Linked DNA regions of Homo sapiens: regions 2, 3 and 4 are each reported to be linked to region 1. The links are microRNA targets in miRTarBase. Many come from high-throughput screens and were not tested one by one. Region 1 holds a microRNA gene; each other region holds the end of a gene's coding sequence. Distances are between the middles of the regions.

Region 1 (7,759 bases):
CTACACTGCTGGTGGAAATGTAAACAAGTAAAACCGCTATGGAAAACAGTGTGGAGATTCCCTGAACAACTAAAAGTAGATCTACTGTTTGATCCAGCAATCCCACTACTGGATATCTACCCAGAAAAAAAGAAGTCATTGTACAAAAAACATACTTGCACATGCATGTTTATAGCAGCACAATTCACAATTGCAAAAATATGGAACCAGCTCAAATGCCCATCAATCAACGAGTGGATAAGGAAATCGTGGTATATATATACCATGGAATACTACTCAGCCATAAAAAGGAATGAAATAATGGCATTTGCAGCAACCTGGATGGAACTGGAGACCATAATACTAAGTGAAGTAACTCAGGAATGGAAAACCAAACATCGTATGTTCTCACTCATAAGTGGGAGCTAAGCTATGAGGATGCAAAGGCATAAGAATGACACAATGGACTCTGGAGACTTGGGGGAAAGGGTGGGGATGGGTAAGGGATAAAACACTGCACACTGGGTACAGTGTACACTGCTCAGATGATGGGTGCACCAAAATCTCAGAAATCACCACTAAAGAACTTATTCATGTAGCCAAACACCACCTGTTCCCCCAAACCTATGAAAATAAAATAAAGGAAAAAAGCACAATGCCCCCACAGAATGCTGGCCATTCAACACAATAATAAATATATGTTAGCTGATGTCAGTTGTTCAATTTCTCCAGGTAAAATAATACTTTTCAAAACAATACACACATTTCCCAGAACCTAATTTCCCACCATTGGCCATTCCTGGGGTTCCCCATAGGACCCTCTCCACACACTCCTGCATTCTTCTTAGGCTGGGGTCCATATGAACAGGATGTGGTTCTCCATGACTTCTGTTTTTCTCTTTCTAGTGGGGCTTAAATGGTACAATCTTTTATGATTTACATTCCATTTTTCAAGTACAAAGTGAAGTTTCTTCTAGTTAATAAGTCCTGTTTGAAGAGTAAGAGTTCTGCATACAAAGTACATGTTTCACTCTCATCGGAAACCAAGTTCTCAGAGGAGTTAATCTGTAGCTAATTCAACAATTGCAGAGTCACTAGCTTTGTACACCAAATACTGTCACCCGGGAGACAAGGGGTGAGAAACAGCAGGCTCCAGTCTCCCATTAAAGCTATATTAAAAAAAAAAAAAAAAAAAAGGAAGGAAGGGAGGGAGGGGCATATTTTAGTCCAGATACATTGGTACAGCCTAGATGCCCAATTCCTAAACATCTGTTAGTGAAACTAGTTACAGATGATGTTGACGAGCAAATCGTAGCCTTAAGAATTATCTCAAGACAGGACAGATCTGGCTCACACAGCCAGGTCTGAATGACTAACCCTTTAGGAAACCTCTCACCAGGGAATTCTGGCTGTGCCGAAAGGCCCTGCGAGGTTCCACAGAGCAGTATTTTCCTCCCCAGAGGAGATGGCATCATGGGTTTTCTGCTGAAGGAAAAACGCCCCAGTGGAGGCCAAGGGAAAAAGCTTAGAGCAGACACTCTCCTAAAGGATTCCACCCTGGCTGAGAGTGGACACTTTTCTAAAGAATTCCACCTGAGCCAGGGCAACAAGCAGGTTCAAAACTGGCTTTTGAAACTCAAAGCCACTCCGTGAATCTCCAACCTATCTTGGTGGGAACTCATGGAGACAGATCCAGAGAAGAGATCCGACCTCTCGCTTAAGAAGTGTGAACCATGACAAGGGTGGTGCAGCCCACGGTCCCCATCACAGTGAAGGCATCTAAGAGCACAGAGAGACAATTGTGACTGGTCTGGTCCGGAAGGCTTCATGTTTGCGTAACACTGGAGCGAGCTTGAGAGATGGTCAAGATTTTTGACAGGTAGGGAAAGAAAAGGGTACAGGGAAAAAGAGTAGTAGATGGAGAGAAGAGAAAGTTATTTTTGTTTGCTCCAGTGGGAAGAGACAGACACATCATGAAAGATCCAGCAGGAAACACAGACTGACCCCCAAATACAGAAGGCCTGGAGCACCAGACTCAATGGTCTGACCACATTCCAAAGGCAATGGAGAGCCACTCTTTAATGGAGAGAACAAGATGATCAAAGAAAGCTACATGATTAAATTGGCTTAAGTAATACATGATGGATGAGAAGAAGTGGAGAGAAAAGGCTGCTGCAACTGTCCAGAGATAAGGCCACGGGGCCCAACACAGGATTCAGAAGAAGGAAAGGAAAGGAAGGGAAAGATATGAGGAATGCTATGCAGGACTCTGTAACTGCAGACCCAGGAAGTGGAACAAGAAGAGGAATGCTCCCCTCATCCTGCATCAGCCACGATGCTGTTCCCTGCCCATACCATGCTGTTCCACACCCACAGCCTCACTCAGGCGCCTTCCGAGGACTCCTCGCGCTCCCACACCCACCCAGCCAATTGTTTCTTGCTCTTTGAAGCTCTGTTCAATTTCTCGGTGAAAGCCCCTTCCCTGGAGCAGACACACTTCCCTATGCCCTTGAAGCATATGGCACTTCTTAAAGGGCTGCTGTCTTCTGCTCGTGCCTCTGGGCACCCACTAGACTGCACATTCCCCAGCACAGGGCTCATGTGCTATGCGTCTCTACCCACCGTGTTCACATAGCACCTGAAAACAGTCAATCGAGTGTAGAGCTTCAGCTTGTTGTCTCTAAAGTCAAACTGAACTGGTGCAAATCATCACAGAGGTAAAGTAACTTCCACTTGGCTACTTACTCCCTGGGTGGCCCTGTGGAGGTCAACTCACCTCTGCAATGGTCAGGTTTCTCAGCTGTTAAAAGTGGGTCATCGGTCTCGGTGCAGTGGCTCATGCTTGTAATCCCAGCACTTTGGGAAACTGAGACAGAAGTATTGCTGGAGCCCAGAAGTTCAAGACCAGACTGGGCAAACTAGAGAGACTACATCTCATCTCTACAAAACTTTTTTTTTTTTTTTGAGATGGAGTTTAGCTCTTGTTGCCCAGGCTGGAGTGCAATGGCACGATCTCGGCTCATAGCAACCTCCGCCTCCCGGGTTCAAGCGATTCTCCTGCCTCAGCCTCTCGAGTAGCTAGGATTACAGGGATGCACCACCACGCCCAACTAATTTTGTATTTTTAGTAGAGACGGGGTTTCTCCATGTTGGTCAGGCTGGTCTCGAACTCCTGACCTCAGGTGATCCATCCGCCTAAGCCTCCCCAAGTGCTGGCTGCCTAAGCCTTCCAAAGTCCTGGGATTACAGGCGTGAGCCACTGTGCCCAGCCCTACAAAACATTTTTTAAAAAATTAGCCAGGCAAGGTGGTGCATGCCTGTAGTCCCAGCTACTTGGAAGGCTGAGGTGAGAGGATCGCTTGGGCCCGGGAGGTCGAGGCTGCAGTGAGCCATGATGGTGCCATTACACTCCAGCCTGGGCAATAGTGCAAGACCCTGTCTAAAAATAAATAAATAAATAAAAAGCAGACTATCACAATACCTTCCGTGCAGAGTTGCTGTGAGGATGTAAGATAATGCAAATATAAACGCTGGCAGCTGTGCTTGCCTAATAAATGTTAGCCAATATTACTGTTAGCATTGAATACCAATTTGTTGACTGCATGGATGATTGGATGAATAGGTGGAGATTCCATCTTTGATTTTTTACGTAGATAACTGGGATCCTGGGAATGACATTAGCAAAGGTAACAAGGAGGACACCACGTGGGTGGGGAAGGAGGAAAATGGGCATAATCTTGGAGGGGCTGAGTTAACGATGTCAGCCAAGCATCATACCCCGTTATGGGGCATTGGCCGGAGTGGGGTTTAGGTCTCCAGAAGTCTCATGAATAGAACCCCTAAGACAATCTGTAGCAGGAAGAGGGAGTGAACCAATCGAGAACTGGTGGCTTAGCAGCAAAATACAGACAACAAAAGAGAAAGACAGAGACTTTTTGAAAACAAAAAAAAATCTCCTATTTGATCATTCCGAAATAGCCATGATATAGTAATAATGGCAGAAACAGAACTTTGTTGGATCTCTTTACATTTATTATATGGTTTAAAATGCTTAATTTAGTTCTTTAAATAAAGAAGAAAAGCAATGTGCTCTGCAATGTTTCAGTGCTTTGGGCCTGTAACGATCTGAATCCAGAACTGGGTAGATCCAGGCTGGAGGCCTAGAGGGAGAGGTCAGATTCAGAACTGGAGGTGGCAGGTGTTAATCCACCAAAGGGCTGGAGGCATAGTTCCTAGTGAGAGACCTGCAAGCCTAGAGCTGGAACTGGGCTGGGAACCCAACACGGCGACATACAGAACCAGCCAGGAATTTTCGCTGTGTGTCCGGGGACCTCCCCTGGGCTTGTCCTGGCTTGTGTTATTGGCCGGGGGGACTGCAGCATACATGGGTGAGTGACCAGAGGGCTTCAGCATACAGAGTCAAGGTGGCCGTCACCTCCTGCAAGTGCCCCAGCCTGGCACATATTAACAAAGGCATCCCAGTCCGTGCTAGAAACCAAGATGCACGTGAAAGTGTTCTGGAACTGGTTCCACGGCCTCTCTCCACCCCTTTCCCCAGGCTGGGTTTTGGGGCTCTGTGTCACTCGCAGAGATGTGGTTCCTTTTCTGCCAGACACTCCAGCTCTCCATTCTGAGATAGACGGCATGCAGGTGTGCTCACTGACTGACATGCACAGGACCAAGCCAGACACCAGCATGGATTTGTCTACAAAGCTCTAGAAATACAGAGCCGAGTCTCCAGAACGGCAGTACCAGGCCGTGGAACCGGGCCGCACACCAGGAAGGTGAGTGGTAGGCAAGTGAGCATTCCCGCCTGAGCTCTGCCTCTTGTCAGATCATTGGTGGCAAAAGATTCTCATAGGAGCATGAACCCTATTGTGAACTGTGTATGCAAGGAACCTAGGTTGTGTGTTCCTTATGAAAATCTAATGCCTGATGATCTGTCACCATCTCCCATCACCCCCAAGTAGGACCATCTAGTTACAGGAAAACAAGCTCAGGGCTCCCACTGATGCTACATCATGGTGAGTTGTAGAATTATTTCATTATATATTATAATGTAATAATAATAAAAATAAAGTACACAATAAATGTAATGCACATGAATCATCCTGATATCATCACCCTCCCCCTCCTCCGGTCAGTGGAAAAACTGTCATCCATGTAGGCAATCCCTGGTTCCAAGAGGGTTGGGGACCACTGCTCTAGAATAATAGTCTCCAAACTGTGTTAACTATGTGCCCCCTTCAGTACAAAATACTCAGGTACAAAACCCCCAAAATAGATACATTAATTTATAAATTATAACAGAGATACCACTGCACTCATATCTTATGTAAATTTAAAACTTACACAGCCTTAAAACTTTAAATAATTCGATCAAAGAAACAACATAAATAAACTATTTTACTTAGGAACAATGCAGTTCACATTTTTGCTTTCACTAGAAAAATGTTATGAATAAGAGAGTATTTTAAGTGAGATCAATGAAACTGAATATTTCATTTGTATTTGTATTGTTACTAAATTGTTTTATCCTTGTAACATGACTGACAAAGAACTCCCAGGAGCAGAAATCTGAGCTCTTTCATTATCCTCTTGTGTGCTTGCGCTTGCATTTTTAATATTATCTTCAAGCCATGGTTTCCTTCCAGGAATCTTCTTAAATTCTTGGTCTATTTTGTGAAGGTTGGTTTAGGTAACACTAGGGGATACAACCCACAAATCCATTTAACCAGCCACATGCAAACCACCACTGTCTTCTTAAGCTCAAGGCAGAGGAGCGCGAATTCTTGGGGGGTCCACGGGTCCCTGGGAATGAGTCACAGGCTTGTGACTGTCTGCCTGACAAACTGTCAATCCAAAACAATACTCATGATTCTTAACTTCCTCCTCATTCTAAAAGATCAAATTATAAGTGGAAGTGCTACCATTTTCTTTCTGCATCCCAATGGACCATCTTGTCTACCCACTTTGGAGACCACTGCTTTAGAGAGACATGAAGGCTGGAGATTTTGCCCTGGACGTCCTCCAAATTAAAGTGAGAGACAAACCAAGGGGGATTCCAGAGATGGACATTTGGAAAGCAAAGGAGACAGGATATCAAATTGTTTTAAATGTCCCCAGCTAAGAAACAGGAGTGATGGCTGGGTGTGGTGGCTCACACCTGTAATCCCAGCACCTTAGGAGGCCAAGGCGGGTGGATCACAAGGTCAGGAGTTCAAGATCAGCCTGGCCAACATGGTGAAACCCCATCTCTACTAAAAATATAAAAATTAGCCGGGCCCGGTGGCAGGACCCTGTAATCTCAGCTACTTGCGAGGCTGAGGCAGGAGAATCGCTTGAACCTGGGCAGCAGAGGTTGCAGTGAGCCAAGATCGTGCCACTACGCTACAGCCTGGGCAACAGAGTGAGACTCCATCTCAAAAAATAAAAAGAAAAAGAAAAAAGAAAAAAATAGGAGTGATAGGGGTTGGATCCGTGTCCTCACCAAATCTCATGTTGGATTGTGGTCCCCAGTGTTGGAGGTGGGGCCTGGTGGGAGGTGATTGGATCATGGAGGGCGGTTTCTCATGAATGGTTCTGCACCATGCCACTGGTGTTGTTCTCCTCATAGTGAGTTCTCGTGAGATCTGGTTGTTAGAAGCGTGCAGCATCTCCTCCTTCACTCACGCTCCGGCTCCTGCTCCTGAGGAGCATGTGAGACACTTTGCTCCTCCTTCTGCCATGATTGGAAGCTTTCTGAGGCATCCCCAGAAGCAGAAGCCTCTATGTTTGCAGTACAGCCTGCAGAACCATGAACCAATTAAACATCTTTTCTTATAAGTTACCCAGTCTCAGGTAGTTCTTTATAGCAGTGTGAGAACAGACTAACACGAGGAGGAAGAAGTCAGCAAAGGAGGTAAGAAAGAATCCCAGGCCAGATGCAGTGGCTCACACCTATAATCCCAGCACTTTAGGAGGCCAAGGTGGGTGGATCACTTGAGGCCAGGAGTTCAAGACCAGCCTGGGCAACATGGCGAAGCCCCGTCTCTACTAAAAAAAAAAAAAAAAAAAAAAAAAAAAATTAGCTAGGCGTGGTGGTGTGCACCTGTAATCCCAGCTACTCAGGAGGCTGAGGCATGAGAATCGCTTGAACCTAGGAAGCAGAGGTTGCAGTGAGCTGACATTGCACCACTGCACTCCAGCCCAGGCGACAGAACAAGGCTCCAACTCAAAAAAAAAAAGGACAAAACAGAAAGAAAGATCCCCTAGGGAAGGAGGGAGGCAAATGTACTTAAGCAATGTCATAATTAAAGAATCTGAGTTTTAAGAAGGGGTTGGTGGTCAAGAAGTGGTCAACAGGGCCCAGTGTTTCAGAACAGTCATGGGGACTCTGCATTCTGCAAAGGCTATGATGTTTGGCAACTCAAGAATCATTGTCAAGTCTTTAAAGAAACAGTTTCAGTACAATGGTTGGTCAAAAGACAAGTCCTAAAGGGGTTGGTGAATGAGTGGATAAGTGAGGAAGTACAGCTGCAGATGTAAAAATACAATATAAATAATTTAAAGAAAGAAGGTGCCAAGTGCAGTGGCTCACACCTGCGATCCCAGCACCTTGGGACGTCAAGGCAGGAGGATCACTTGAGCCCAGGACTTTGAGACCAATCTGGGTAGCAGAGTGAGACCCCATCTCCACAAAAAAAAAAAAAAAAAAAAAAAAAGTTTTTTTAATAAGCCAGGCATGGTGGCACGTGCTTGTAATCCCAGCTACTTGCGAGGCTGAGGTGGGAGGATCCCT
Region 2 (7,759 bases), 38 Mb from region 1:
GACACAATGCTAACATGAAAGCGCATAGATTATTTTTTTAATTCTCAGATACTTTGGTTCTCTGAGGCGGAGAACCAGCATCAAGGCCTCTGAATACAACAAGCACAGGCTTGATGAGGGGCTTGGGAGGTAAGAAGGTGCTTTTGCCATTCATAGTTACATGTAAATATGGACAGGTTAGGCATTTGCTTTTAAGGTATTATGGAAAAGCACACTTAACCTTTACAGTATTTCTCCTACTGATCTCCCAGTCTTTACACATCTTCTTGGGTAAAGGCAAATGTTTTAAATGTTTCATTTAGGCAGGTGTGGGGTTACAGGAGAACCAGTCCCACAGATCCCCACCTCCCCACATACCATGCCCAGCCAGCCCCTCAGTCACCTTTTCTCATTTATAAATTTGGAGACCCTCAAAACGCTAAAAATCACAAGCTTTAATCAACTCAGTATCCTGTTAAGTTTCTCTTTCTTGGACCCTATCCCAAGCATCTTTAATTCTCTTAAGTATAAAGTGATTCTGACACAGGTGGTTGACCCCACTTTAGGGAACATTGTCCTAGGACTGTTTAAATATCATTGAAAATCACTGAGTCCACATATTGTGTCCTTAAGGACACTTTTTAAAACATATATATTAACTTTTAGCTTTAAGCAATATGTTAAATGTTCGTATTTCTAAAAGAAGACAAATAAGCCAAAAGGGAGCAAATGTGAATTCCTTTCATCAAGTTTTCTCTGCCTCTTCCTCCAGGATATGCTGTCCCTAATGCAACTGCACCCGTGTCTGCAGCCCAGCTCAAGCAAGCGGTAACCCTTGGACAAGACTTAGCAGCATATACAACCTATGAGGTCTACCCAACTTTTGCAGTGACTGCCCGAGGGGATGGATATGGCACCTTCTGAAGATGCTTTTTTAAATTTAAGAATAAGACACACAAAACTCTATTAAAAAAAAAAAAGAAATAAACCTCTAACTCGGTCCCCAATGATCATAAATAATATGTTTCCTAAAGAAATGCCTTTCCAGAGACTGTATAGCTTATACCAATTATAGAATCATGAAGTAAGAACGTTATTCTGAAATGAAATCAAATGTTAAAGAGCCTTTTGTTTAACAGAAAGCTGGAGAGCCACTGCCCCAAAAGTTGTTCTTCCAGTCTTCCTGAGTGTTTGGGGAGTATGTTTACAAATCCTGCCAGGGTGAAGAGAGATCTTGTAGCTGGCAAGATTTGGGAGGGATGGAGCAGACCTGGGCAGTCAGTAATAATCAAGGGAAGCCAAGTAAACTCCAGAGTCTTACCTCTGGCTCACAGCTGCTTTTGTGATACACAAAGTCACAAAGAGGAAAAGGGAAGGGAGGAGGTTGCTTTTCAAAATGCATTCACCATGGCTCACTGTGTGGGGCATGATTGCAGGCCTGAGCTCATGAAAGACTGTCCAAGATTTTGTGGTTTCAACCTCTCTTCAGCCTGAAAATTCCATCCAGTCGATTTGTCACAGATCAGGATCTTCCTGTCCCCTGCAGCCCATGGGGACTTCCTAGAAATAGATATGATATGTTGTAGATGTGGTTAAAACAAATCCAGGCCCCATTGTTTATTCAGCTCATTAGTCCACACCTATTTTTCCCTAGAACTCCTACCTTTTCCAATAATCATGCCAGCATGAAATGACCTTTTCTACTTTAAAATTTTTTGACTTGTTCATATTGCTTGATTTTCATCATCTCAGACTCATTTTTCTCCTACCTAATATCATAAAAAAGTAAATCAGATATACAGAATATCATTTATGATACTTCTTCCTTTCAGCAAATTGACTGAAAAGTCATTTTAAAGAGAGAAGTGCAGATTTGCTCTCATTTCTTTGATATTGTTGCAGTATCCACCCCACCATCTAGCAATCAGAGATGCTTATATTAACTTGGGATTAGCTTTGCATTATCTAACCCATTTATTTTAAATCTGCCAGGAAATCCTCTAACTTTCCTTCCTTTTTGTTTCAGTAAGTATCAGGCAGCTTCACCATACCTGAGTCCTTTTGTCTTGAAGCTGCCACAGAAAAATCTTACAGCAATCATTGCTGATTAGAAACTGTTTCAGACAATCAGCATGGGTGTTATTTACCAAATTCCCCCCAGAGTCCTAGGCCTCTTCTCCAGAAATATCTGATGATGAAGTGAGGGGAGGGCAACGGTGCTACAAAACACGGAACAGAGGTAAAGAGAAGGCACTACTTTCTTGCCATACTTGTAAATGATTGCTTTGTTCAAACATAAATAATCTTAAGTCCAACACCAAATACCTGTTACTCCTACATCAATCTCATTAGTGGTTTAAGACACAGTACTAGAATTTTCATTTTTTAAAATCCCTTGGCCCTTAAAAAAATTTACAGAACACAAAGGAAAACATAAACACAAAGACATGGAAAATTTTGTCAACTCCTTAATGGAATTCTGTGATCAAAAAGCAGGCCAGATTCTAATCAAAATCAGGTAAATTTTAATCACAATCAGAAGTACTTGTAACATTTCAGTTGTCCTAACTCCAATGAGATAACAAAGCCTCCAAGGCTACAGCTGAAACTCTGAAAGGCCCTGTGCTTTCTACTTTACATTTAGCGTCTAATATTTCCTAGGACAGTAGTTCCCAAAGTAGGCTGTACATTAGAATCTCCTGGAGAGCTTTTTAAATGCTAATGCCAATAACATATCTCATAAAATTTACACTAGAATTTCCTTGGATGGGTGCCTGGCATCAGTATTTTTTAATGATCCCTAGGTGATTTCAATGTGCACCTAGGTTTGGGAATTGCTATATTCTTGTATTTATACTCTATCTCTTTATTTCTTTTCCTTTTTATTTCACTTTTAGTAAATAGAAAAATGCAATTAAAAAATCATCTAAGTTAAGACAAATAGCCAAATCATATTTATCCCATAAATAGTATGAATTTAAATGTAACTTACGTAGGCTTCAAACTAACTCTAAAAATGAGAAAGTAAAACAATCTTGTCCTAAAACAATTCTTAGATCCAAATTTACACTCCCCTACAGATCTGCTTTTATTCTCAAAGACAGTGATTACATTGACATAACAAATGTCCATTGGGGCAGGCAAATTTCTACTGAGTCTAAAAAGCATTCCAAATTCTAGGAGCAAAAGTTCTGATTTTCCTTAAAATCTTTGCAAATAAACAGCAAAGGGTATTCTGGATGTCTTGTCAATGCAAATTAGGTTTGATTTAGAGAAGTTTTAAATTTAATCGCAATGAAAAGATTAGTTAATACATGAATCTTTTTATGAGAAAAAATCATTATTCTGGATAAAGTCATAATTGTTTGTTTACAATATTAAGAGCAGACACCTAAACATACAATAATACCAAAGTATTGAGAAAATTACCACTGGAACACCATCTCAAGTTATCACACCATTTACCTCTTTAGAGCCAGTTTTGTATAAGTAGGTAGAAGTGGTTTTGGTTTTTTTGCTAAAATTTTACTTTGTTTTAGTAATATCTAGGGAATACTTTGAATTCCATTAAAATACCTTCATAGAAAGTGTTAATGTGTCTACCATGCCATATGTTTATTTTTACTTTCCCCAAGTTAGGTAGATAGAGCAAGTCCTGCTACCATAAGTTTAAAATTATTAAGACAACGGGCTTTTTTAAATTGCTGGTAGAACCAAAGGCTAATTTTGCATAGGTTTATATTTTTAGACTTAAGAAATTAGCACCTATATAATACCTTCATACCTTCTGCATCACTATCAATTTTTCTGTAATTTCTTATTTGAATGCTTCCTAATTCTTTACAGAAAAAATTAAAATTTGTCACCCAACCAGGTGATAATAACAAAACAATAATTTAGGAACATCCAGTAAATTTGAATTAGTTCTCTAAATTTTGGTAATTAATAGCTTATTGATAATTAAAATCAGCCTAATGTTGCTTAAGTAGGAGGAAATTGATCAGCAATGGGATTGGGTATCTATTTTCTTTCCTATAAAAGTGCTGCCTCTTCTCAAATTGCTTTATTTCTCTCCCACTGCATTAGTATATCTAGAACAGCACCTTCAACTGCAACAAAATATAATTCTCCTAGATGACTAGGATATCCTCCAATCTGGTATCATGCCAAACAACACTATGTTTGGGGAACAGCACCCGAAATGCTGCTAAAAAGCTACCTCATGTCAAGAAAATATGGATTTCAAAAAATATCTGGCACAGTGGCCCATGCCTATAACCCCAGTACTTTGGGAGGCCAAGGCAGGAGGATTGCTGGAGGCCAGGAGTTCAAGACCAGCCTGGGCAACATGGAGAGACTCCGCCTCTACAAAAAAAAAAAAAACAAATTTAATTTAATTGGCCAGTTGTGGTGGCGTGGGCCTGTGGTCCCAGCTACTTGGGAAGCTAAGGCAGGAGGATTGCTGGAGGCCTGGAGGGCAAGGCTGCAGTGAGCCATGTTCACATCGCTGCACTCCAGCCTGGGTGACAGAGCAAGACCCTGTCTCCAAAAAAGCAAAAATAAATATCTAACAAAAAGGAACCTGTTTCCAAACCACAGTTTCTTAACTTTTTCATGATGGAATAGAAATTAAACTATAAGTATATACTGATAATAGCTGTGCAGGAAATTGGTTTTTATTTTACTTAAAAGTATTTTTTAGAAAAAATGTTATTCTGATTGCATAGATTAGCAAAATATTGCATCAATATAATGTTCCATTTTTATTAATTTTTGTTATATTCTAAATGACCGTTTTATAATTCTGTCTTGGACAACTGGGCCACAGTTAGAATCCACATAGACAGGGAGGTTCTTAGGTGTGCCATTTGTAGAATAAAGGGCAATCAAGTTAATATTCGGGGTAAATTTTCATTGCATTCTAACCTATGAAGTTTGATAAAGTATATTATTATTGAACAACTCTAACACTAAGATTTCCTAAAAGTAACTTACAACAAAAAATGAACTATGTGCTCAATATTCACATAAAGTCATGATTATTCTCTTCTTGCATTCATATAAAAGTTCCCAGGGGGAAGAAAATATATCTAAAAATTAGACTAGAAACTTGGCACTTTTTATGTATTGTAGATACACTTTCATATATTGTAAATACATCTGTTAAAGATAAAACTAAGTTTCTAACATAGCACTACAAGGAAACTTTGGATAAATATTTTTAAAAAGAAAATGTTAATAGGATAACTTAAGATTTTGTATATACTTATTGGAAGACAGGAAGAAACTAGGCAGTAAATATTCCTACCTGACGTGCAACCATTGTCAATCAGGTTTTGTTAAACTGTCAAATTTGATTTTGAAATTTTAGTTTGCCCAAATAATATCTTGAAAATGCTCTGAATTTTACTAGAACATATTCATAGAAAGTGTAATGTATCTACCAGGCTCTATGTTTGTGTTTGCCAACATTAGAAAAACAAAGTAAGTTGCGCTATAATGAGTGAAACTAAGGAAAATGAGATTTTTCTGACTCCCATTCCCTCTCTTAAAAAGTAAAATATTTAAGCTTTTTTTATTAAAGGAAAAATGGGTACAGAATACTCTATTGCCCTCCAAATGTCCAACATTTTTAAAGCCATGTTGTCCAACAATGTTTATACAGAAAATAGAATGCATAGGTTTAATATAGATAGCAATGTATATGTAGGCTCATTTGTGGGAGATTGCAAACTTTATGTGCCCCCAGTTCTCCTTGGTTTTGTAGGAAAGCTAAAAGAAAACCTTGTACTCTCACTAATAATGAAATTCATAGCCAATTTAGAAAGGGAAAATAACCTGAAAACCAAAATACCTCATTCATCTGAAGATGCCTGGAATAAAATATGGAATTCTTCTGTACCTACCTCCCCCTTACAGACTTTTCTCCTATTTTGAGAGAGAAATTCAAGAAGAAGAATACAGCTTGTTCTCTTTCCACAAATGATACTTTGTCTAAGGGAATAGGAGATACCAAGAAACAGTATCTTTAAAAAAGTAAGCTGCCCACAGGCCTTCTTGGAGAATGAAGAATATCAGCCCCATTCAGGGTTTACCAATGTCTCTCTGAGGTGACAATACATTCTGGTTTTCCAGGACAGTCCTGGCTTAGGTCTGCTGTCCTTCTATAAATATTAACAATGATCCCTCTTATTTCCAAACGTGTCCCAGTTTAGACAACAAATTATACAGTGTCTGCCCCCAACACACACACACACACCCCACCATCTTTATGGGTTGTTGTTGTTTTCTTGTTGTTTTTAATTTTGTAGAATTGGCTTTGTCTTCTCCAAAGCAGATAACAGCTTAAACTAAAGAGCCTAGCTACTTCTTTCTGACTGAGCAGGGTCATAGTAAACAGAGAAGAATGGATCACTTCCTCCTCTGAAATCTCCATCAATCCACTTTCTGTCCAACTATCTCTCTACCCAGCCTATTTTTGGTCCTAGTTTTCCTCTCATAACCCCTGGGCTGTGAGTCCTGAGTTCTGCCTTCATATGGCAGAGCAAGCTAGTCATTATTATGCCAGGTTAGGTGGTGGGGCAAGACAAAAGATAGCTCTTGGGGACACTTGCTTGGTCTGTAGAGATCCACAGGGCACTAGTAGGGTATTAGAGCATTTATTGGTTTCTTTCTTCCTTGAGTTGAGTTACTTCTATCCCAAAACAGACAGGTCTTACGTTAACCTTCACCTTAAAAAGGATATTGCCTTTTTTCCTTCTGCTTCACAAATTTGCTCCAACACTAATTCCCTTGCATTTGATTTCATCATTATGATTGTTCATCAACCATTCTTCACGAAAAATCCTCACATCACGTCATATAAAGGTTTTATTATTTTTAATGGAAAATAACATTGAGAGATTATTTTCCTTTTTCATAAAATTTCCCTTTTTCCCTCCCTCTATTCTCTTCACTAACATTGGAAATTAAACAAGTTTTACAGGCTCTATTGTTATTAACCCTCAAATCTATTCTTCAGAGAATATATGATCAGCCTGTGTTTACTATGCACCTACTCTTATACCAGAAACTGTGAATACAAATACATATATTTCCTACTTCTCTCTTTAATTGGGGCACACAGTCCCATGGTCCATTCTGCATTTTTCAAAATTGAATATAATTGCAACACCTGATAGGTTTTGCCACTTAGAATTCTGAAAATAAATCAACTCTGTTCTAAACCTTAAGTTTCCACTATTATTGCCAAACTCTGGACTGATACAATAAGCCTTTTAAAAGGTGAATTTAACACTTCACCTATTATGGTTATTTAAGTAAAATGAGTTTTCAAATATTTCCCCCAGGAGAAATATAAAGGACTATGCAAAAATAGAAGGAGAAAAAGGTTAGTTAGAGGTCCAGAAGGAGAATTAAAACATGGAATTGATAAATTCACCTACTGATTTATGATGTTAATGAGCAGGTACCTATACATTTTATTTACTTGAAAACATTTTGGCCATTAACTATTTCTGTTTTCTAAATACATTTGTGTTTATAAAATTTTAAAATCTATATCACAAGACTTAGACATGCCTTTCTTTGCAATAAAGTATATATACCTTTTTACAAATGTAAATTTTATTTTGAAACTTGGCATTTTCTTTATAATTCCTAAGATATCTTTGGGCACACAGACTACAGATAAATCTATTTAAATCAATTCATCATTATCACTGGTTTAAATATTTAATGTAACCATTGGAATTTTTATTCTTATTCCTTCAGAGAATTC
Region 3 (7,759 bases), not on the chromosome of region 1:
TTTTAATGTATCAATAGAGCAAGCAAAGTCTTAGAGACTGAGTGTCATCCTGTATGGGGAAAGCTTCTCATTCTGTTAGAGGAAACTGGAGAGCAGACATCCAGAAAGCTTTGAGAAATACTGGTATATTGATTTAGAAAATTGTTTTTTGTATGGCAATGAAATTTGCTTAAGGGTAATATGTCTCTTTAGGGCATGATTGGTGACGTGGGATGTATGAATTCTAAATTTTTGTCTGCCACTTAGTTTAGATTACTTATCTATTGAATATTTCCCAGGCAAGGGGAGTTAGCACATGATGAACAGGACTGGAGATCTAATTACAAATGATAGTAAACCAAAGTGCAAAATAACAACGTAAAAATGTCAGTTTAAAATGCTGCACATGGTTGAGCTGCTACTAATCCTGATGTTTTTTTCTTGGGGTGTGGTGTGATCTAGATTGTCAGAAGCTTCAGTTCTGGTAAAAGAGAAGGTGGGGACTTTGTTTGCTGTGCCCTCTCTCCCCGTGGTGAATGGATCTACTGTGTAGGGGAGGACTTTGTGCTCTACTGTTTCAGTACAGTCACTGGCAAACTGGAGAGAACTTTGACAGTGAGTATTACTTACTAAGTTCATCTAAAGAAATATGGTAGGACTTGTGTCTTTCTGAACTCTGAAGTATGTGCCTTTTCCAGAGCTATCGATGTGACCCTCAGTATAAAATATGTTGTTTTAAAACATTTAGCTCCATGTCAAATTCAAGAAGTAAAATTAATGTCAGCTGCTATGATGATCCCCAAATCTCGGTGGCTTAACACTATATAAGTTTGTTTATTTTTATTTTATTTTATTTTATTTTGAGAGGGAGTCTCACTCTGTCACCCAGGCTGGAGTGCAGTGGTGTGATCTCGGCTCACTACAACCTCTGCCTCCTGGTTTCAAGTGATTCTCCTGCCTCAGCCTCCCAAGTAACTGGGACTACAGGCACATGCCACCACTCCTGGCTAATTTTTTGTATCTTTAGTGGAGACGGGGTTTCACCCTGTTGGCCAGGCTGGTCTTGAACTCCTGACCTCAAGTGATCCACCCGCCTCTGCCTCCCAAAGTACTGGGATTGCAGACATGAGCCACTGCGCCCAGCCTAAAGTTTATTATTATGTCACAATGTGATGTGAGTTGGAAAACCCTCCTCCATCTTTCTCCTATGCCATTTGGAATATGTGGCCTCCCAAGATCTCTTTTTCCCTTCCACCCACCTCTGGAAGCCTCATCAGAGTGATTTATTGCAGATCTGTACATCCTAACCCTGTGCTTTACATGTTCCAGGTGCACGAGAAGGATGTGATTGGTATTGCACATCACCCTCATCAGAACCTGATTGCTACCTACAGTGAAGATGGACTCCTAAAGCTCTGGAAACCATAATTCAACTTTTCTTTTTAAATCAGCTCGAAAGCATGTACTTAAATGAAGCATATTCATGTAATGTGCTTTTTTTTTTTTTTGCCAGCTTTTCTAAGCAAATAGATTGTCTGAATTAGTCACAGAATAATTTTGTGAAAATTCATGTTTAAGTAGCAACTACCCTTTCTTTTTTTATATATTTTTAAGGTATTAGTTTATCTTCTTCTAACTGGTGCAGTCACTTAATGTTTTCATTAATCTTCGACCTGGAGAGTGAAATACTGATATTTCTAGAAAAAAATTCTACTCCTCTGATTATTTGAAATGCTGAGGAAAATGTCCCTCCCATAGTAAAACTTGTAAATAAGGAACTATATCATATTCAGTAGCTGTGTTCTGTTCCATCTTTTTTTTTTTTTTTGAGATGGAGTTTTGCTTGTTGCCCAGGCTGGAGTGCAGCGGCACGATCTTGGTTCACTGCAACCTCCGCCTCCCAGGTTCAAGCGATTCTCTTGCCTCAGCCTCCCGAGTAGCTGGGGACTACAGGTGTGCGACACCATGCCTGGCTAATTTTTTTGTATTTTTAGTAGAGATGGGGTTTCACCATGTTGGCCAGGCTGGTCTCAAACTCCTGACCTCAAAGGATCCACCCGCCTTGGCCTCCCAAAGTGCTGGGATCACAGGCGTGAGCCACCATGCCCGGCCCATCTTTTTTTTTTTTTTTTTTTTTAAAGATGTTAATAAACTTTATACCTTTCTGGAGACTTTGTTCTAAAATGTACATAAATGCTCATCTAGTTAACATATTTACTTAGAATGTGGGAGGAGGAGTCACATTATTATCCCTGAATCTCAAGTACAGCAGAAGTGAATTCCTGGGATAGTAGGATAGACTAACATGTAAAAAGGCCAGGTGATGCATAGGTTCTCATTTCACTGCCCTCAGCCTTCCTCTCCTTCTGAGCTGTGCCTTCTCACATGTTCAGTCAACTCCAGGGAATATTGTCTCCATCTTCTGGATAGAACTAGTTGCAGGATCCGTTACAAGAATTCAGAGTTTTGGCATCTCCCCTTTGTATGTTGTAGGAGAAGGTTTGGCATTGAAAATGTGCTGTTGTTCCAAAGAAAAATTAGCAAAGGACTTGAGATTTAGAAAAGTCTCCTTTGTAATGTGCATCATTACCAGTTATCTAAAGAAAAACATGTAAAAGCCAACAAAACCCTTGAAAATATTTTGCATATGGATGTCTGTTTCACGTTTCAACTGAAGATGTATAGAGCACCTCTGATGATGAGGAAGATACCATGCTAGGCAGTACTTTCAAGAACGTGAGTTCTTATTTCTGCAGGCCTTTTGTGCCCCCTTTTAAATGTTAGCATTTATTAGGTACAAACTAGTGGGGAAGGTTTTTTTAAAAAGTTTTGCAGTCTTGTAATTTACCTTTTTAAAAAATTTATTTTATTTTTCTGAGATGGAGTCTTGCTCTGTTGCCCAGGCTGGAGTGCAGTGGTGCCATCTCAGCTAACTGCAACTTCCACTTCCCAGGTTCAAGCGATTCTCCTGCCTTAGCCTCCCAAGTAGCTGGGACTACAGGCGCATGCCAGCATGCCTGGCTAATTTTTGTATTTTTAGTAGAGCGGGGGTTTTGCCATGTTGGCCAGGCTGGTCTTGAACTCCTGACCTCAGGTGATCCGCCTGCCCTGGCCTCCCAAAGTGCTGGGATTACAGGCATGAGCCACTGCGCCCAGCCTTGTAATTTACCTTTGATGGTGACCTGAAATGCAGTATGATCCTATATGTGGCACGTAGTAATGTTCAGTGTTTGCTGAATTAATTCTGGGCAGCACTAAGAAATCCCTCTTTCCCAGTCATATTCTATAACACATTTCCCATTTGCCACAAAACCTGCAGCTTTTTGGTCCAGGTAATGACATTTGCTGCCATTTTGATGATTTAAAAATGGTCGTGGGAGTTGAACATAGTCATGAATTCAGGATTCCTGAGCATGTAGACAGTCATCCCAGTGGAAAGACACGTTCACTTAAGAGAAGTTTAAGTTAGAGGAAACAGTTTATGCTAAAAAAATTTTTAGAAAAGTCCTTGAGAATTTTTGATTTAGTCTTGACCTCATGAAGCTGGTAGTTATGATGTGCATAGTTTGTATCACCGTTTATGAAGATGGAGAATCTAGTCAGCACGTGTTGGTTTATTCTAGGAATTTTTAGGGAACACTTCTGTTGCTGGCACCAGGTGATGAATATGGTTAAAAAAAGACTCGTTTCTGCCTAAACATAGGGAAGAAGAGCAAATTAAAAGGAGTAATTAAAACTGATAAAAGCTCAAGTTACCTTTGTGATGATGAGGCGGGCAGTTAACGCGAAAGGGTTGGGAAAGGCTTCCTGGAGGGACTAGGGGGCGGTCTAAGCACAGGGAACCTAACCGGGGACTCCAGTGTGGCACAGCGGCAAGGTATGTGCTGGGCAAAATGATAGGTGTCTTGGGAGACCAGGCAAAGAGAGCTGGATTAGGAGCCGTTAAGTATATATTTTTCTTCTTTTTAAATAAAATAATGCACTGGGTGAACATGTAAACGCTAAGTTGAAAATCTGCCTTTCCCAGGTAACCCTTGTTAATCTTTCTACAACTTCATTTCGTACAAACCTGAAAAACACACTGATTTTGTCTTTAAATGGGCACACGCTGCTTACACTCCTCGGCGCCTAGCCTTTCTGAAGCCCCACGCGGCCGTCCCTCCAGCATTGAAGGCTGGGGCAGCCCAGCTCCCCTCCAGCGCCCTTACAGCCAGACCGCGGCGGGGTCGGGCCGCGCACGCGCAGGGCGGACGGCCGGATCTGGGGCGCCGCTGCTCCGGGTGGTCGGAGGTAGGAGTCCCATCTTGGGTCCAGGGCCGGTAGAGCCCCTTACCGGGGGTAGGGAGACTGCGCACCCGCTAGAGCCAACTGTCAGGGCCTGCAGACGTCGGGTGACGTCACTGTTACAAAATTGGCGGTCACATCGTCTTAAGGGCCGGTGGCAGCGGCTGCGCGAACGGGAGTTGGCTGCCGGGAATCAGTGCTCACTTCCTTCTGAATTGGGCGTGTGCAGTCGGTTCCTAGGGAAGTGCTCTGCTGCAGCCACCAGATTTAACGGATGCTGCTCTCTAGCACTTAACATAGAAGCTAAACTACCTGGCGTTAAAATTAATTCCATGAGCATAAGGACATTTGTCCTATCCCCTATTCTGCTGTTGAATTAATGACTGGAAAACATTGCGCGGAGGTATTTGGGAGTAGTATGGCTTTTTTTTTTTTTTTTTTTTTAACAGCAAATGGTATAAATCTCAGGTACAATTCAGTATCTTCTTCACCAGTTGTTTTTTTTCAGCATGTATTATTACTACCACTAACGGCCTCTGTTGAGCCCTTCCTTGCTATGTAAGCAGCCATATTTAATTCTCAGAACAATGTAATGAGGGTGCGCAAATGCACATGAAGAAACAGGTTTCCAGACGTGAGGCACCTAACTCAGTCCAACTTGCACGAAGCTCGCATTGAAAACCAGATGTGACTCCGAAGCTAGGTTTTTTTTCTCTCTTGCCTCACTCTCAATATTGCTGTCAGTTCCTCCTCAATCTTTAGGTTTGGGCAGGGACAAAGAATACATGGATTGTTCCTCCACATGCTGCAAACACATTCACCTAAGCAGAGCACAGGTAGTGAGATGAGTAGAGAGAACTGAATTAGAGGATTCTGGATGTCAGTCTTTGCTGTCACTTCTTTTGGCTTGTGCTAGAACAGTGGTTCTTACAAGTGTCACGTGATAGACACATTCTAAGGTCCTATCCCAGACCTACAGAATCAGAAATTGGTGGTGGGGCCCAGCAAGCGTGCTCAAATTTGAGAGCAGGTAGACTACAGGGTAGTTTCCGCATATACAAAAGGTGTTTTAATTCTTGCTGTCAGTCTCAGAAGTTTCATGCTGAGATAACCAAATTTAAATGATAAAGGTGCAAGACTGACTCTTAAAATCACATTTTTTCAAATTGCCATAGCTTGCTAGTGTTCTCATTCACTGTGCTTTTACAGCTTCATTTTCCACTATTTTAAGAGAAGAAATTGCTATGAAGTGTATGTCCAAGTGAGGAAGTTCCCTGGTCTGAGGTTGTTTAAAACTTACAATAGGCCGGGCACGGTGGCTCAAGCCTGTAATCCCAGCACTTTGGGAGGCCGAGGTGGGTGGATCACGAGGTCAGGAGTTCAAGACCACCCTGGCCAACATGGTGACACCCTGTCTCTACTAAGGATACAAAATTAGCCGGGCATGGTGGCACACGCCTGTAGTCCCAGCTACCTAGGAGGCTGAGGCAGGAGAATAGCTGGAACCCGGGAGGCAGAGGTTGCAGTGAGCTGAGACTGTGCCACTGCACTCCAGCCTGGGTGACAGAGCAAGACTTGGTCTCAAAAACAAAAAACAAAAAAACCAAACTTGGAATAGCAAGGGCTGCCCATTATTTAACCTTCCACGGCAATTTTAACAGTGGTATTCTGTTCCAAGTGGTTAATATTAAATCCATGTGTCAGTGTTGGTGGCTTTCAACCTTGGCTGCGCATAATCATTTTGATGCTTAGGCTACACCCAGCCGAGTTATACAGAATCCCTGGAGGGTGGGACCTGATGAGTGTTTTAATGTTTCCCGGGTAATTCCAATGGTAGCCAAGGTTAAGAACCAGTACCGTACGTACAAAAAAGTTGAGAAGCTAATTTCACGTACAGAAAATTTGCCACTGTTCCAAGAGCACTCTCAAGCGACATAATTGGCCTCTACTCCTATTCCCTACAAGTATGAATGGGCAGGAGAAGCATCACAGAGAAAGCAGAGTTAGTGCTGGAACTTGTATTTTTGTGGATGATGACCTTGGTTAATGTTTTTTCATAGGCTCTGTTTCATAGGCTTTGTTTTTTCATAGGCTCTCCCTCATTACATTGTTCTGAGAATTAAATATGGCTGCTTACATAGTAATGAAGGGTTCAACAGAGGCTGTTAGTGGTAGTAATAATACAAGCTGAAAAACTACACAGACAAACCTATCAGTTTCTGCCTCTTCAGGATATAACTATTAGGTTAGTGCAAAAGTAATTGCGGTTTTTGCCATTAAAAGTAATGGCACATTACTTTTGCACCAACCGACCTAATATGACTTTCTTTTAGTGTTCTTAGGATTTTTAATTGTAAAACATGTAACAAATTTTCCTAAACAATTGTGCAATTCAGTGGCATTATTTACGATGTTACGCAACCACTATTGTATTTCCAAAATGTCATCACCCTAAACAGAAGCCCTGTAACATTGTCAATTAACTTCTCCTTCCCTTCCCCTCAGCCTTTGGTACTGTTTCTGCCTCAATGCATTTGTCTAAGTTTAGTTCATATAAGTGAAATTATACAATACTTGTCCTTTTTTATCTGGCTTATTTCATTTAGCATGTTTTAAAGGTTCATCCATGTATCAAACAGTAAAGTGCTTCATATTTGGGGGAAGTATAAAAAGTATTCCTTTTAATGGCTGTGTATTTCACAGTGTATGTACACATGTATATTGAGAATTGAGAGATTTGTAGGTACACATTAACCATTTGTTGGTGGACAGTCAGGTTTCCACTTTGGGCTGTTGAGAATGCACAGTAAACACTGACCATACGAGTTTTTTTTTTTTTTTTTTTTTTTTGAGACAGTCTCCCTCTTGTCGCCCAGGCTGGAGTACAATGATACAATCTTGGTTCGCTGCAACCTCCACCTCCTGGGTTCAAGCGTTTCTCCTGCCTCAGCCTCCCAAGTAGCTGGGATTATAGGCGCCCACCACCACACCCGGCTAATTTTTGTCTTTTTAGTGGAGACGGGGTTTCACCACGTTGGCCAGGCTGGTCTTCAACTCCTGACCTTAGGTGATCAGCCCGCCTAGGCTGCCCAAAGTGCTGAGATTAGAGGTATGAGCCACCGCGCCCGGCCTTCATTCGTTTTTAATTCCTTTTGTATAGTCATCCCTCAGTATCCATGGGGGTACTGGTTCCAGGACTTTCCATGGATACCAGAATCCGAGGGTACTCAAGTCCCTGATATAAAACAAGATGGTTATTTGCATATAACCTACACATCCTGCGTAATTTAGCCATCTAGCTCTAGGTTACTGGTAATACCTAATACAATGTAAGTACTATGTAAACAGCTGTTATACTTTTAACAGCTGAAGTCTGTACATGGTCAGGAAACAATTTTTCCCAATTGTTTTTGATCCAAAGTTGACTAAATCCATGGATGTGAAACCCAAAAAGGAGGGCCAGCTCTGGGTCATGTGGTAATTCCATGTTTAGCTT
Region 4 (7,759 bases), not on the chromosome of region 1:
TTGAAACTGCCAGGAGCGGTGGCTCAGCCTGTAATCCCAGCACTTTGGGAGGCTGAGGCGGACAGATCATCTGCAGTCAGGAGTTCAAGACCAGCCTGGCCAACATGGTGAAACCCCATCTCTACTAAAAATACACAAATTAGCCAGGTGTTGTGGCCCACACCTGTAATCCCAGCTGCTCCGGTGGCTGAGGCAGGAGAATCGCTTGAACCTGGGAGGTGGAGCTTGCAGTGAGCTGAGATCGTGCCATTGCACTCCAGCCTGGATGACAGAGCGAGACTCTGTCTCAAAAAGTAATAATAATAATTGAAAGTGATTTAACACAGTTTAGTTCGTTCTGTTAATTCCCATTAACAGGTCTCAGAAATCATGTAGAAGCTTCCAGGCTTTAAAAAGCCCCCTCGCTATCTGGGCGCAGTGGCTGACACCTATAATCCCAGCACTTGGGGAGGCCGAGGCAGGCGGTTCACTTGAGACTGGAGTTGGAGACCAGCCTGGCCAACATGACAAAACGCCGTCTCTACTAAAAATACAAAACAATTAGCCAGGTGTGGTTGTGGGTGCCTGTAATTCCAGCTACTCGGGAGGCTGAGGCAGGAGAATCACATGAACCTGGAGCTTGCAGTGAGCTGAGATCATGCCACTGCACTCCGGCCTGGGAGACAGAGCAAGCCTCCATCTCAAAAATAAGTAAAATAAAAATATTTTGATCTTTTTTAATAAAAATTCTTTATTACAAGGGAAGCAGATGCAAAGTTATAACTAAAAAAAATTGTAAAAAAAAAATAGAATAAATTAACCATGAGCCGAGGGAGGCATACAACATATAATCACACTAGATCAGTAATAATTAAAACAGAAATGTGTCATGCAGTAATTTTAAACGCCCTCATTTGCTTAGTTTTCTACCTTTAGTACCCAGATCCAATTTCTTTGAAAGGGAAGAATACACGCTACAACTTCTTCAGTCATTGGTTTATACTTCATGTCAGCTGACCTCAGTTTTAAAATATGTTGTTACCTTGACTTGAAACTCATTTGAAACTTGATACATTTTCCAGGAAGAATTATGTGAAAAAGTGACAATGCTCAGGTCAATCCACAAAAGCCTGTTAATGCAATGTACTAATAACATGGAGCTGGCCATTATTTGCAAAAACACTATTTGTATGAAAATTGTATTCAGAACTCAAATTTGTCCTTAAATGATTGAATTTTGTAAAATCTCATTTATCCTTTATGGTTCATTTCTTATTTATTGAAAGTGGTAATTAGAAATATTTTAGGCATGGCTGGGCGCAGTGGCTCACACCTATAATCACAGCACTTTGGGAGGCCAAGGCAGGCGGATCATTTGAGCTCAGGAGTTCGAGCCCAGCCTGGGCAACATGGCAAAACCACATCTCTACAAAATACAAAAACAAAAAAATTAGCCAGGCAGTGGCGTGTGCCTGTGGTCCCAGCTACCCGGAAGACTGAGTGAGGAGAATCGCTTGAGCCCAGGAGGCAGAGGTTGCAGTGAGCCAGATCACGCCACCACACTGCAGCCTGGGGAATAAGAGTGAAACCCTGTATTAAGACAAAAAGAAAAAAAAGGCAAAAGTTATATTCTTTAAAATTAATTTTTATTAGCTAACAACCCTCCCTTTTCCCTTTTTTGGTTTTGTTTTCCTTAGGAAAATATGCCCAGGTTACCAACAATCCTGAAAATGATGGATGTATAAATGCAGTCTTACTGGTTTGACAGCAATTTCATATATAATTATTGAGGACTACACACCAATTGAAGAAACTGCCATTACTGTGATGTTTCTGAATACTACCAAACAGCCATACATGTCTGCAATGAAGAGATTTATTAAATTGTAAACATTAAAGTGGTCCAGTTTTATAAATGGTCTTTATTTTGAAATACGCTTTGACCCCATGTTCATAAAACTGAATGATTGAAAAAAAGCAAATATACAAATATCCTACTTCATCAATATCTGCATTTGTGAGTGGGTATTCAGCAATTTCCTGAAAAAACCACCAGTGTTCATTGAAAATGCCTTTCAAAAAGGTTAATACACAATTATGTGTCTGAGAATTTAACTGAAGTATCTTCAAAATCTCGTTAATCATTAATCCTAAAAAAGGTAGGTAGCATTAATACAGATGTTAAGTTTATAGTGTTTGTTTACACTAGAAGTATGTGAGAAGACACTAAAAGTTCAGAAATCTTAGAGAAATCTTTTCACCTGTGAAATCCAGTACAGCAAAGGTCTAGTGAATTCACATTCTAAACATTTTTTTCATCTCATTTACCATGTATAATAATACCTACTTGGCACTATTTTCTACTTGAATCATGAAAATGAAAAAAATATACTAAAGTCTTTGTACTCTCTTAGCATTTTCTGTATTCTAAACAATATATTTATACTTTCAGAATAGTATTAAGAATTAGTTTAAGTAACTCCAGCTAAGTTTTAAAAGGAAAAAGAAGACTGCACTGATTCCCTGAGGAGAAATTTATTTGCAGTTACTTAGATGATGTAAAAAGGTAAGGATTTACGGTTGTAACTTGGTGAAAGCACTTTTGTGATCTGTTATATGTTGTGGTTTTAAGGATGGCGTATATTACATTAATCTATAATCACCACATTGTTTTAAATTGTTTATTTTTTTTTTAAAGAAGTCTGTCTTCAGAGTACAACCAATGTGATTAATTGTGCCTTTAACAAAGTCATTCAATGTCTAAACAAATTCAGTATCTGAAACATCTTCATGAGGAAAACTGAAGGAAAGGAATTTAAAAACACAGACCAGGAAACAATCACAAAATATAGGTTTAATTACTACTTTTAAACTTAAAAAAAAATAAAAACCAAGAAAACAAACATAGGTACTCCAGTAAGACTTGCTACTCTGAATAATGTAACATTTTTTCTAAGTTCTATAAATATATACTGGAAGTTTTAGAACACATACAGACGCTTAGGAAAAGAAAGGCTAGTTCCTTGGAAATGACGATCCAGGATGATACAATCACTTGATGACAGAAGGTAAGCCTTTCTTACAATTAGATTTTAGCAGATAATTTTACCACTAATATAAATGGGTGATGTGTGGATCACAAGTTCTAGAAGGCGAATAAAAATACTGACTCCAGGTAATTTCTGGATACTACAAAAATGAAGTTTGCTTGTTTTTTTTAGAACCAAAAATACTATCTTGTAAGGTACAAAGAAAGCTTGATATTAAGTATGAAAACATAAGCATAACATTTGTAACTAATCACACCCATGAAAGACGACTAGATGACACCTGAAACATTTTTCAAAATACTGTAACACAGATGAGTAATATTAGTATAAATTTTTTATGTACATTAAGATCTGTTTCAGTTTGCTGGTGTGACCAAACCTTAGAAGGTAATCCCAAGGGATAAAGCAGAACATAAGAGCAGATATTTAGATATTAGTACAGGCTCAATTTGATGCAATCATAAACCTTCAAGATTTCTAGTCACTGAAACCCCATTGTAGGTAGTGTTCTGGAGTCTGCTATAAGTAAATCTTTAATGACTAGATGTTTTCCTTACCATCTACACTGAATGGAAATACCATGAATATAGACACATTTTAAGTAGAAGACTGACGTTCTAAATCATGCTGTTTGATTTTATAAAAAAATCATAATAGACCCTCTCACCTTTAAAAGTTGTAGAGGAGCTTTATAATAAATTCTTAAATATACTAATTTCTGTGATGTCTAGCAATTGAATAATTTAAACTTGAAAGAACTAAAATACTAATAACCATCTGCTTTATATTACACAAGGAAATATACACGTATGTACATAAAAAGTGAACTCCCTTCACAAATAAGTTCACAAAGGACTATGTGTAATGTGACTGGACATTCAACAACTAGACTAGCCGGTTGAAATCACATTTTCAGTCCTCTGTAATTGTGAAATTTTTTCTAATGCCTTGCAAAAACTACAGATAACTGATTAAGTTCATGTAGGTTCCTTATTGAAGATAAATTGTGGTATAAATTCTATACTCAAGTTACTGAACATGAGAGTTAGGTTTTTCCAAGTGATCTAACTTTTCCCTCTATAATCTATAAACCCCAAAATAACAATTTCTGTCAGAGAGAATCTGTAACAGAAGTGTTCTTGTGTGCTGAACAAAAAACTTCTAAATTGTTTACAATTCACTTACTATTTAACCCAAACAAGTTTAACAAGAATAAGTTTATACTGTTAGCCCCCAATGGTCATATATGATTAATAAACATTTTTTGTAAACTCAACTATATTCACACATCAAGAGTTGAGCCAGTGAGCTCAATCTTTAAAAAACTACACTTGTCTAAAGAAAGTCTTTTAGTGCTCACTTCGGCAGCACATATACTAAAATTAGAACAATACAGGGAAAATTAGCATGGCCCCTGTGCAAGGATGACACAAATTCATGAAGCGTTTCCATGTTTAAAATAATTTGAAAAGAAAGTATTTTAAACAAATCCAAGTAAAAATAAAATATCTACAAGTGTTTTCAAATCTAAGAAATGAAACATGTAAAGATTAAGAATTTACTGAATCTTAACAGAGTATTTCCCTTTGTGATATTGACAGAAGTTTCTCATAAAATGTATAAAACAGCATAAATGTTTGGTAGATTCACTAATAGTAGTCATACTTTTTTTTTTTTACTTAGTATTAGCATTTGTTGAAAAAATAAATGGCCAAAGTGCTTTAATTTTCATTTAGAATGAAATAATCTGGCTTACCTTTGACTAATTAAAGAAAATATAGGGTAATACAATTGTTCAAAATCTAACACAAATAGGAGCGTTTACTATTTTTGTCTGCTTTAAGATTTTAACTTGATCGAAAATACCAACATCCCCAAACAAAATTTACTGACCTGACATCAGCTTACTATAGACTGAATACACTTTCAACATCAGTCCTTAGCTACCTCAAATAATGACACAAAGTCTTAGTTTCTTTTGCATAAGGATCAAGATCAAGCTATTTTTAAAACAATTTAAATGGTCTCAAAACATTCTCCAACTTAAGTGCAAATTTGAGTACACATAATATTTCCAAAGAGTAGAACTGTTTTTAGATTATCTTTGGATTCTAATAACCATTTTGTCCATTTTTAAATAAATTACAAAAAATAACAGTTCAGTGTTTTTTTTCTTCAAATTTTCCTAGGCCTTTGTTATGGCAACACAATATATACTTAACAGGCCAGCTTGCAACCAGTACTCAGTACAAATCAAAGGATGATTGAAGCCTCCAATATGATTGAAGCCCTTGTAACCACAGCTCCCCCAAAGGCAGTTTACCCCTGCCATATAGGTCTAACACTGGGGGCAGTTTTACTCCTGCCATATAGGTCTAACATTGTGGGGTGCACCTCCAAACCTACCCAAAAATGGACATCAAGGGCATAAGCCGGCAGGCAGGAAGATCTGTTGATTGGAGAATCACTCCATGAGTTACAGAAGTAGATGAAAGCTGTGGGGGAATATAAATAAGACTGTAGAATTAGGGAGGTGGCAAGATTTAAGGAGATGCCTTAGGAAGGAGCCTCATACTTCTGAAATATAGATGTTAACTGGGTTGGGATAAAAGTAAAATCTCCAGCTTAATTTATCTATCTGATCAGGACCAGAAGTCCAAATTAAACCATGTCTCCAAAGTATAGTTGTGATTTTTACCTGATTAAAGGTGAAAGTCTAAACTTCTAGGCGTCTGCACATATGCAGACAAAAAAAATTACAGCAAACTAATACTTCAAATGAAATTTTAAATAATTAGTCCCCACATGCCACAGTTAAATCCCTGACAGTACTGTTAACATCAGATGATAGAATGAATCAGAAACAGATTTTATGTGTACCTTTCCATAGATAGTGAAGTCAAAGGAAAAAACTGCATCTATATCTAGGATTAAGAGGCCAAAACCAAAATATCTTCATGAACCTTTGACCGTAAGTTTCTGTTTTTGTGCTCTCATTTACTTGAAGTTATATTTTTTCTAATTTATTGACACTTATTTTTGTTTAGGCATGCCTACATTTTAAAAAATTGGTGATTAGTTTTGAAATTTAAAACTTCTAGAACCCTCACCAAGTTTTACTATTAAAACCCTTAGTATAAAAGATTTCTGTGATCCTTATAAGTAATGGAAATCCTACTACTTTCACAGCTTTTTAATTATATTTTTGAAATAATGGTCAGATGTACCACCTGATAAAGAAAATATAATATGATCTGGTTTCCCAAAATTGAAACATGGTTAATAAAAATAAAAAATTGCATTTACCAAAAATAGCCTGGAAAATTAAAAACAATGGTGAATTCTACGTTCTAAAGGGAAGCAAAAAACTGCATAGTAAGTAAGTTCAAATTGAAATTTTGGAAATTTTTGTCCTGTGCCCCATGCTGTTTATTAATTACCATATTTTAAAAACAACAACTATGTTACAAAGAAGAGGATTTATCATCCACTTTCTTCTTCCTTCAGGTCAGCTTAGCTTTCTTCTTAGCAGGTCCTTTATGCCCTTTGGCCTTTCTTCTTAAATTCCGCCTGTCTACCACAGGCACTTCCACTTCTATTTCCTCTGAGCTGCTATCCACAGCTTTTTCTGCCGATTGTGTAAACTGATCCAGTTGCTCGGAAGATGCTTCAGACTGCTCCTCTGACTGATTCTTCTGTCCTGCATTCTGTGAAAATGGCACGTCTTCAAGTTCAACCTCTATCAAAGAACTCTGAGGAAGAGCAGTAGATGTTTCCTGGGGCTCAGATACCCCCTCCTCACCCTGGTCTTCCAATGAGGAAGTAGTATTAGGAGACAAATTCTCAGAGACCGGTTCTTCGGAAAATTCAGCTATCACAGAGTTTGGAAAACCACCATCAGATCGTTCTTCATTTGACATAGTAGCAACATTGTCTGAACTCCCAAGATGTGCTTTCTTTCTTGGAAGTAGGGACAATTTCTCTTCCATGTGCCCCTTTTCATCAGATGTGCCTTCATCCATCAACATTTCTGAGTCAGGTATACGTGGGGTCTGAAAATTAAAAACCTGGTCAACAAATAAACTTGTACTACAGTTCTAAAAATAAATTCTCAGGCTCTAATATGCAGTGACACTGAACTAGAATTTAATTCGGTATTCATTACTCAAAATCGAGTATTTTTTTGAATTTCTGTTCTGCTATATGTGTATATATTCTGAATACAACTCAATTTCTTCAAAATTGTTTCACATGGTAATTTTAATACTAAGTTATTACTTTGAGGATATAATGAAATAATTATTTCATAATTAAGACACATTAAGCTTCATATCAAGATTCTTTAAAACCATGAATCAACTCAGTTTTTTTAGTTTCCTGGTGTTACTGGAGCCAGAACCAAAAATACCTTGGGACTTCACTGCGCTACCACACTACGTTTGACTACGATTTCATTAGATAAGTTAGGGCAATGGAAGTTTTATTCTTTTGCTTAGGTGAGACACTAATAATGCCATACAACAGTTTTTTAGCCATAAGTTGTAATATTCAAAAGTAACAAAATTAAATTTCTTTTAAAATACTCCAACAAGTTTTTTCCCCCACTAACCTAATCTGTCTGCCTAATTAAAACAAATATAAATTACTGTTTTGGTCATAGTCTATGTAACAAATATAGGTACTCAAATATTTGGTAAATAATGCTTTATCCAATTTTCTAAGCATTTCCT

What was found. Region 1 holds the annotated microRNA hsa-miR-4480 (AGCCAAGUGGAAGUUACUUUA, at 2,698-2,718, opposite strand). A microRNA usually pairs through its seed, bases 2 to 8, with sites in the 3' UTR of a target mRNA and lowers its output. Matches are read on the target gene's strand: a 7mer-m8 pairs with bases 2 to 8, a 7mer-A1 pairs with bases 2 to 7 and ends in A, and an 8mer does both.
Region 2: the mRNA of A1CF is a reported target of hsa-miR-4480. Seed matches in the 3' UTR shown: 8mer at 5,088-5,095 and 8mer at 7,616-7,623.
Region 3: the mRNA of SMU1 is a reported target of hsa-miR-4480. The part of its 3' UTR that is shown has no 7-base or 8-base seed match.
Region 4: the mRNA of NSA2 is a reported target of hsa-miR-4480. Seed matches in the 3' UTR shown: 8mer at 2,325-2,332.

What each region holds. Positions count from the first base shown.
Region 1 is chr10:12,573,755-12,581,513 of GRCh38, reverse strand. MIR4480 (microRNA 4480) reads right to left here and starts at 2,761; the gene lies at 2,691-2,761. All of the region lies in intron 2 of CAMK1D (calcium/calmodulin dependent protein kinase ID), which reads right to left.
Region 2 is chr10:50,799,873-50,807,631 of GRCh38, reverse strand. A1CF (APOBEC1 complementation factor) reads left to right here. Exons shown (of 13, transcript NM_014576.4): 13 at 752-7,759. The coding sequence ends at 903. Among named protein-coding and RNA genes, the nearest start is that of ASAH2B, 64 kb to the right of the region's middle.
Region 3 is chr9:33,040,941-33,048,699 of GRCh38, reverse strand. SMU1 (SMU1 DNA replication regulator and spliceosomal factor) reads left to right here. Exons shown (of 12, transcript NM_018225.3): 11 at 442-594; 12 at 1,309-6,935. The coding sequence ends at 1,407. Among named protein-coding and RNA genes, the nearest start is that of DNAJA1, 20 kb to the right of the region's middle. RefSeq lists a silencer at 4,042-4,361 and an enhancer at 4,216-4,717.
Region 4 is chr5:74,774,928-74,782,686 of GRCh38, forward strand. It overlaps NSA2 (NSA2 ribosome biogenesis factor), which reads left to right. Exons shown (of 6, transcript NM_014886.6): 6 at 1,677-5,186. The coding sequence ends at 1,744. FAM169A (family with sequence similarity 169 member A) reads right to left here. Exons shown (of 13, transcript NM_001376049.1): 13 at 2,647-7,081. The coding sequence ends at 6,533. It also overlaps the pseudogene RNU6-1330P. Among named protein-coding and RNA genes, the nearest start is that of NSA2, 12 kb to the left of the region's middle.